2 separate regions of the Homo sapiens genome follow, and region 1 is linked to region 2. The links come from fine-mapping of genetic effects on gene expression. A gene starts in region 2. The other region holds a variant in brackets. All regions are shown on one strand. Distances are from middle to middle.

Region 1 (2,791 bases), 21 kb after region 2:
GTAGAACAGGGCCCCAGGAGTGCTTGCTGGCATTTTCATTATTGTGACTCTTGATGTTATTCTGTGAGACACTCTTCTTGTTCCCTGCCCCTTTTGGGTCAATGTTTTTGAAAGAAGACGTTCATGTGGAAACCTAGTGTTGATCTCTTCAGTCATTTAGCAAGTCTTCGAACACCTATTATATGCCAGGTAATGGTGATTTTTATAATTTGGCCTGTTTATTAATGAACAACTTAAAGTAGGTAAATAATTCCTAATGGTGAATGAGTCCATCTGAGGCAAAATCTGATAATTATCACCATATATTCTGCAGAAGAGAAGATCTAATCATAACCTTAACATCCTATTAATCCTGAAAAGGGATATGAATAGTAAAATTCAGATGTATTTAATCAGAAACCATATGTCATCTGTCAGCTTTACTTTATTCATAAAAGTATCCATGCTGTGAGGTTTTTTTCCTTCTTCTTCTTCTTTGAAAATATATCCTTCTCTATGGTTCTCTCCTTTTTCTTTTTGAATTTAAGCGTTCACACCATTTTTCATTTTTTAAGAACAGTGGTTCCCAACCCTGGATGCACATTAGAGTCATCTAGAAAGCTTTAAAAAATTATGTCCTACCTCAAGTTGAGTAAATCAGAATATCAGGGCCAGGCGCGGTGGCTCACACCTATAATCCCAGCACTTTGGGAGGCCAAGGCAGGCAGATCACTTGAGCTCAGGAGTTTGAGACCAGCCTGGGCAACATGGTAAAACCTGGTATCTATAAAAAAAAAAAAGTAAAATAAATAAATAATATATTTATATATATTTATATAAAAATATTATATAAATAAATAATAAGAATACCAGGGACTTGGGTGGCCTTAGTTTCAAAATGTCCTCAGGTGTCTCTAGTGTGCCCTAGGATTGAGAGCCACTAATGTCAAGTGTGTATGTCCTTTTGTATTTTAGAGGTGGGATTGCAGATGTCTGGAATGTCTGTGAAAAGAGTCATGGGATCTGCTAACTAGTAGAAAGCCTCCTCTTGAAAAACTGGGAACTAAGAAAAGGAAAGAGACTTTATTCCCTTTGATACCTTTAGAACCATTTCTCAGATATCCACTTTATCTAAACAAGAAATGGTAATGATTGGTGTAAAAAACTTCCCACCAAAGAAAAATGCACTGTGAATTACCTTTCAGAGACAACTGAGACTCCATGTAAGTTCACATTTGCATGGGTACTTGAACCAAATTGCATTTAAGGTTTTCCAGCTGCAGGATCCCTCATGTAGGATCTATCTCTAACATTTCCTCCAAATTTAAGACCCGTGGTAGCCTGATTCTTGATTCTC[AC/A]CCCCCCCCCTTTTTTTTTTGAGACGGAGTCTCGCCCTGTCACCAGGCTGGAGTGCAGTGGCATGATCACAGCTCACCGCAAGCTCTGCCTCCCAGGTTCAAGCGATTCTCCTGCCTTAGCCTCTCGAGTAGTTGGGACTACAGGCGCATGCCACCACACCTGGCTAATTTTTTTTGTATTTTTAGTATAGACGAGGTTTCGCCATGTTGGCCAGGATGGTCTCGATCTCTTGACATTGTGATCCACGTGCCTCGGCCTCCCAAAGTGCTGGGATTACAGGCATGAGCCACTGCTCCCGGCCTAATTCTCCTTTTGTTGGGCATAAGTGAGAGGAGGGGAGATGTCTTAAACGATTTCGAGAACTTGGTTGACAGGCCCTACCTTGTGGGAAGAGGGAATGGCCCGTCATGCTCTCAGATCCCATCTCTCCTCAAGTCATTTCAAGGAAATATGGACAGTGGTCAAATTAGTTTGCGAGCATTTCTTTTTTTTATTTTATTTTATTTTATTATTATTCTTTTTTGAGACGGAGTCTCGCTCTGTCGCCCAGGCTGGAGTGCAGTGGCACGATCTCCGCTCACTGCAAACTCCGCCTCCTGGGTTCGCGCCATTCTCCTGCCTCAGCCTCCCGAGTAGCTGGGACCACAGGGGCCCGCCACCACGCCTGGCTAATTTTTTGTGTTTTTAATATAGATGGGGTTTCACCATGTTAGCCAGGATGGTCTCGATCTCCTGACCTTGTGATCCGCCCGCCTCGGCCTCCCAAAGTGCTAGGATTACAGGCGTGAGCCACCGCGCCTGGCTGCGAACATTTCTTACAATTTTCATAGGCATATGAAATTTTACCATCACAACTATCAAAGTATAACAGCAGTGTGGAGATTTTCATCATTCAAGTGATAAGTTGTGACATGAAATTCTGCGAAATTTGCAGTTACAAAATCCAGCACCATCCCTTTAGACAAGTAGACTGCTCTGTTCCCTTTTTATGGAGAGCCTTGGTGACTTGCTCCAGATCGTACAGCTGTTCTGTTCTGTCGTTAAGTTTTGTCAGAGCATCAGAGGAACACTTCCATAACCTCAGCATTTCTTTGGCTGGTTGTTTTTGTAATTAGTACAGAGTTCAATTCTAGAGCCATGCTGGAATTGGTATTTTTTGGAGTCACAGCTTTGAGGGGAATCTATTTGTTTTTCTCCTAAAAGGTAATAATTACTAATGGAAGGTAAAACTTAGTGGTCTATTTATACCTCACTTACTTCCAAAAGTGATTTAAAGAAGGTTCGTGATCTAGCACATTAAGTTAGAGAAAGTAAAGGAAATTGAAAGCAAGGAAAGGAAGAGAAAGTGAGTTATTTTCTCCAGGTTTTTATTTCTCCATATTTGAATTCATCTCAAGCAGATAGTAAGCTGTCATTCTTACCAAAAAGGAAGAATGAGTGGTATCTCTAGAAA
Region 2 (2,791 bases):
AGCCCTCCCAGCCCATCACAACAACTATATTCCTTGATATTCTCGAATTGCACTTTATTTTGTTTTGTTTTTTTGAGACGGAGCCTTGCTCTGTTGCCCAGGCTGGAGGGCAGTGGTGCCATCTCGGCTCACTGCGGCCGCCACCTCCTGGGTTCAAGCAGTTCTCCTGTTTCAGCCTCCAGAGTAGCTGGGACTACAGGCATGTGCCACCACACCCGGCTAATTTTGTATTTTTAGTAGAGACGGGGTTTCACCATGTTGGCCAGGCTGACGAACTCCTGACCTCAGGTGATCCACCCGCCTAGGCCTCCCAAAGTGCTGGGATTACAGGCGTGAGCCGCTGCACCCAGCCTCGAACTGCACTTTAAATTGGATAGCTGGGCGGGCGTGGTGGCTCGCGCCTGTATTCCCAGCTACTCGGGAGGCTGAGGTGGAAGGATTGCTTGACCCCAGGAGGTCGAAGCTGCAGCGAGTCGTGATTGCGCCACTGCACTCCAACCTGGGTGAAAGACAAGACCCTGTCTCTAATATATAAGAAATGAATAAATAAATAAATTCGATTGCCAAAATTCTTGCTGTTCCCAGCATATTCCACTTTCACCTTTCAGCGCCTTTGCTTATGCTGATCTGACTGTAACTGCATTCCCACCCTTCTCCTTCTGGGTAAAGGGCATCTTCTTTCCAAACTCAACTCTTAGCATCAGAAAGCTGTCCCTGATACTGCAGTTGAGTCGCATGTGATACTGAAAAAAAAAGAAAAAAGGAAAAAAAAGAGAGCTCTCCCTGAATCCCTTGGTGGACTATGTTAGGTAAACTTCATCTTTGCCTGCATCATATTATGTATTGGTTCTTCTCTGCCCCCTCGATTGTAAACTCCTCAGGGGCAGAGGTAACAGCTTTGCAGCCCTGGGAGTTAGGTTTGCTTAAGGGACCAGAACAGGTGTGACTGGCAGGGAGCGAAGTCTGGAGCTTTGTCTGAGGCGCTGATAGGTGGATCGGCGGAAGGACGCGGAACCTGGACAGGTCGGAAATAAAGCCGGGCGAGCAGCTCTGTGCGCGATGTGACTTCATGAGTGGATGCTGAGAAAAGCGGCAGAGTACGACTTTAACCGCCTAGCCACAACACGTCCTGCTAGGGCGAGGAGGGAGACAGTGATACAGCACTGGGCAAGTGCTGAAGCGACAATTACTTCTAGGGCGGGGTAAAAGCCCCAGAGTATTTTTGCTGGAAGGAGGTATTTATTTGAGCAGGGTTCTGGAAGACGAGCCGCCGAAGGGTACCTCCGGCTTTCCGTTTCAAGTCCCACGCTGGTGGAGGTTGCTCGGTACCCGCGCCTGCGCGTGCCCGTCTCGACTCTTAGGCCCGCCCTTTCCTGCCAGACCTGGAGGGGCGGGGCGGTGCCGGCAAGATGGCTGCGCCCGAGAAGATGACGTTTCCCGAGAAACCAAGGTAAGCGCCGTACGGGGAGATGAGCAGGCGAGCGGGCCGATCGTGGGCATGGAGGATGTGGTGGCAGGAAGAAAAGAGAAGCTGGGCCAAGCTAAGTGAGCCACCGCGGCAGCTCCATTCCTTCCTGGTGCGCGCTCTGGTGCCCTCCCCGGACTTGCACGGGCGGCTGTGGCTCAGGCAAGCGAGGAGAGGATCAGGTTGGCGGATGGAGAAGAACTGTCTGGGAGTGGGAGGATGAGGCGATGATAGATGGCTGTTCTGTAATTAAAATACAGGAAGCAAGGTTTCTCTCCTCAGCACCCGAACTATTTCCTTTCATTGGGCACAGAGGAGCGGGGAGCTCGGGCAGCGCTGCATTGTAGCCGCTGATCGTCGTGTATATGTCTTAATCTTCCAGCCACAAAAAGTACAGGGCCGCCCTGAAGAAGGAGAAACGAAAGAAACGTCGGCAGGAACTTGCTCGACTGAGAGACTCAGGTGATGGACTCTTTATTCTGTTTTCTGTGTTGTGAAATTGCTCTGTCCACTCCAGCCCTAACTTGAAGCCCCAGTGTCAGAAGGAAGTCAAATATTGTGTCGGAGGAAAAATAGCTGTGACTTCTGCCCCCAAGTAGTTATTTAGAAACACATGTCAGAAACAATGTTAACATACTAAAGGCAGGAAGAGGAAGTCTTGGTGAATGATCGCCCACTGATTCTGTGTAACTTATAAAGTATCTAATATTACAGTTGCAAGCTTCATGAATTACAGCAGCTAGCACAGTCCTTGCACACGTAGTAAGTATTCGGTGAATGTTTTTCTTCGTAAAACCAGCAGGAGTTGAAGGTATTAATTAGACGTTTTGCAAGTTTTTCTCAAACTTGACTAATATGAGACCCTTGGTTTACCCAAATTATTATGTTATTCAAATATATATCAACATAATACTAGTTATGAAGCTCATTTATTTATTTTTGAGACAGGGTCTTGTTCTGTTGCCCAGGAGGGATGTGCACAACCACGGCTCACAGCAGCCTCCACCTCCCAGGCTCAAGCAGTCCTCCCACCTCAGCCTCCCTAGTAGCTGGGACTACAGGCATTCACCACCACACCTGGCTAATTTTTTCTTTTCTTTTCTTTTTTTTTTTTTTTTTTTTTGAGACGGAGTCTCGCTCTGTTGCCCAGGCTGGAGTGCAGTGGCACGATCTTGGCTCACTGCAGCCTCCGCCCCCTGGGTTCAAGCAGTTCTCCTGCTGCAGCCTCCCGAGTAGCTGGGATTACAGGCGTGCGCAACCACACCCGGCTAATTTTTGTATTTTTAGTAGAGATGGGGTGAAACCCCATCATGTTGGCCAGGCTGG

Which allele goes with the higher level. Positions count from the first base shown, and alleles are read on the strand shown. Sizes are in standard deviations (SD) of each study's normalised expression.
For the expression in fetal neocortex of the gene that starts at base 1,398 in region 2, allele A in region 1 goes with a lower level than allele AC (small effect, 0.38 SD a copy in Walker 2019).

The links. PIP is the estimated chance that this variant, and not a neighbour inherited with it, causes the effect. A credible set is the group of variants that fine-mapping cannot tell apart.
Region 1: its variant is the best candidate, but not a certain one, in a credible set for the expression of ZRSR2 in fetal neocortex (Walker 2019, PIP 0.80).

What each region holds. Positions count from the first base shown.
Region 1 is chrX:15,810,087-15,812,877 of GRCh38, forward strand. All of the region lies in intron 7 of ZRSR2 (zinc finger CCCH-type, RNA binding motif and serine/arginine rich 2), which reads left to right. Among named protein-coding and RNA genes, the nearest start is that of ZRSR2, 21 kb to the left of the region's middle. The variant AC/A (reference allele first, on the strand shown) is at 1,337.
Region 2 is chrX:15,789,087-15,791,877 of GRCh38, forward strand. It overlaps ZRSR2 (zinc finger CCCH-type, RNA binding motif and serine/arginine rich 2), which reads left to right and starts at 1,398. Exons shown (of 11, transcript NM_005089.4): 1 at 1,398-1,450; 2 at 1,848-1,927. The coding sequence starts at 1,410. RefSeq lists enhancers at 1,276-1,725, 2,384-2,791.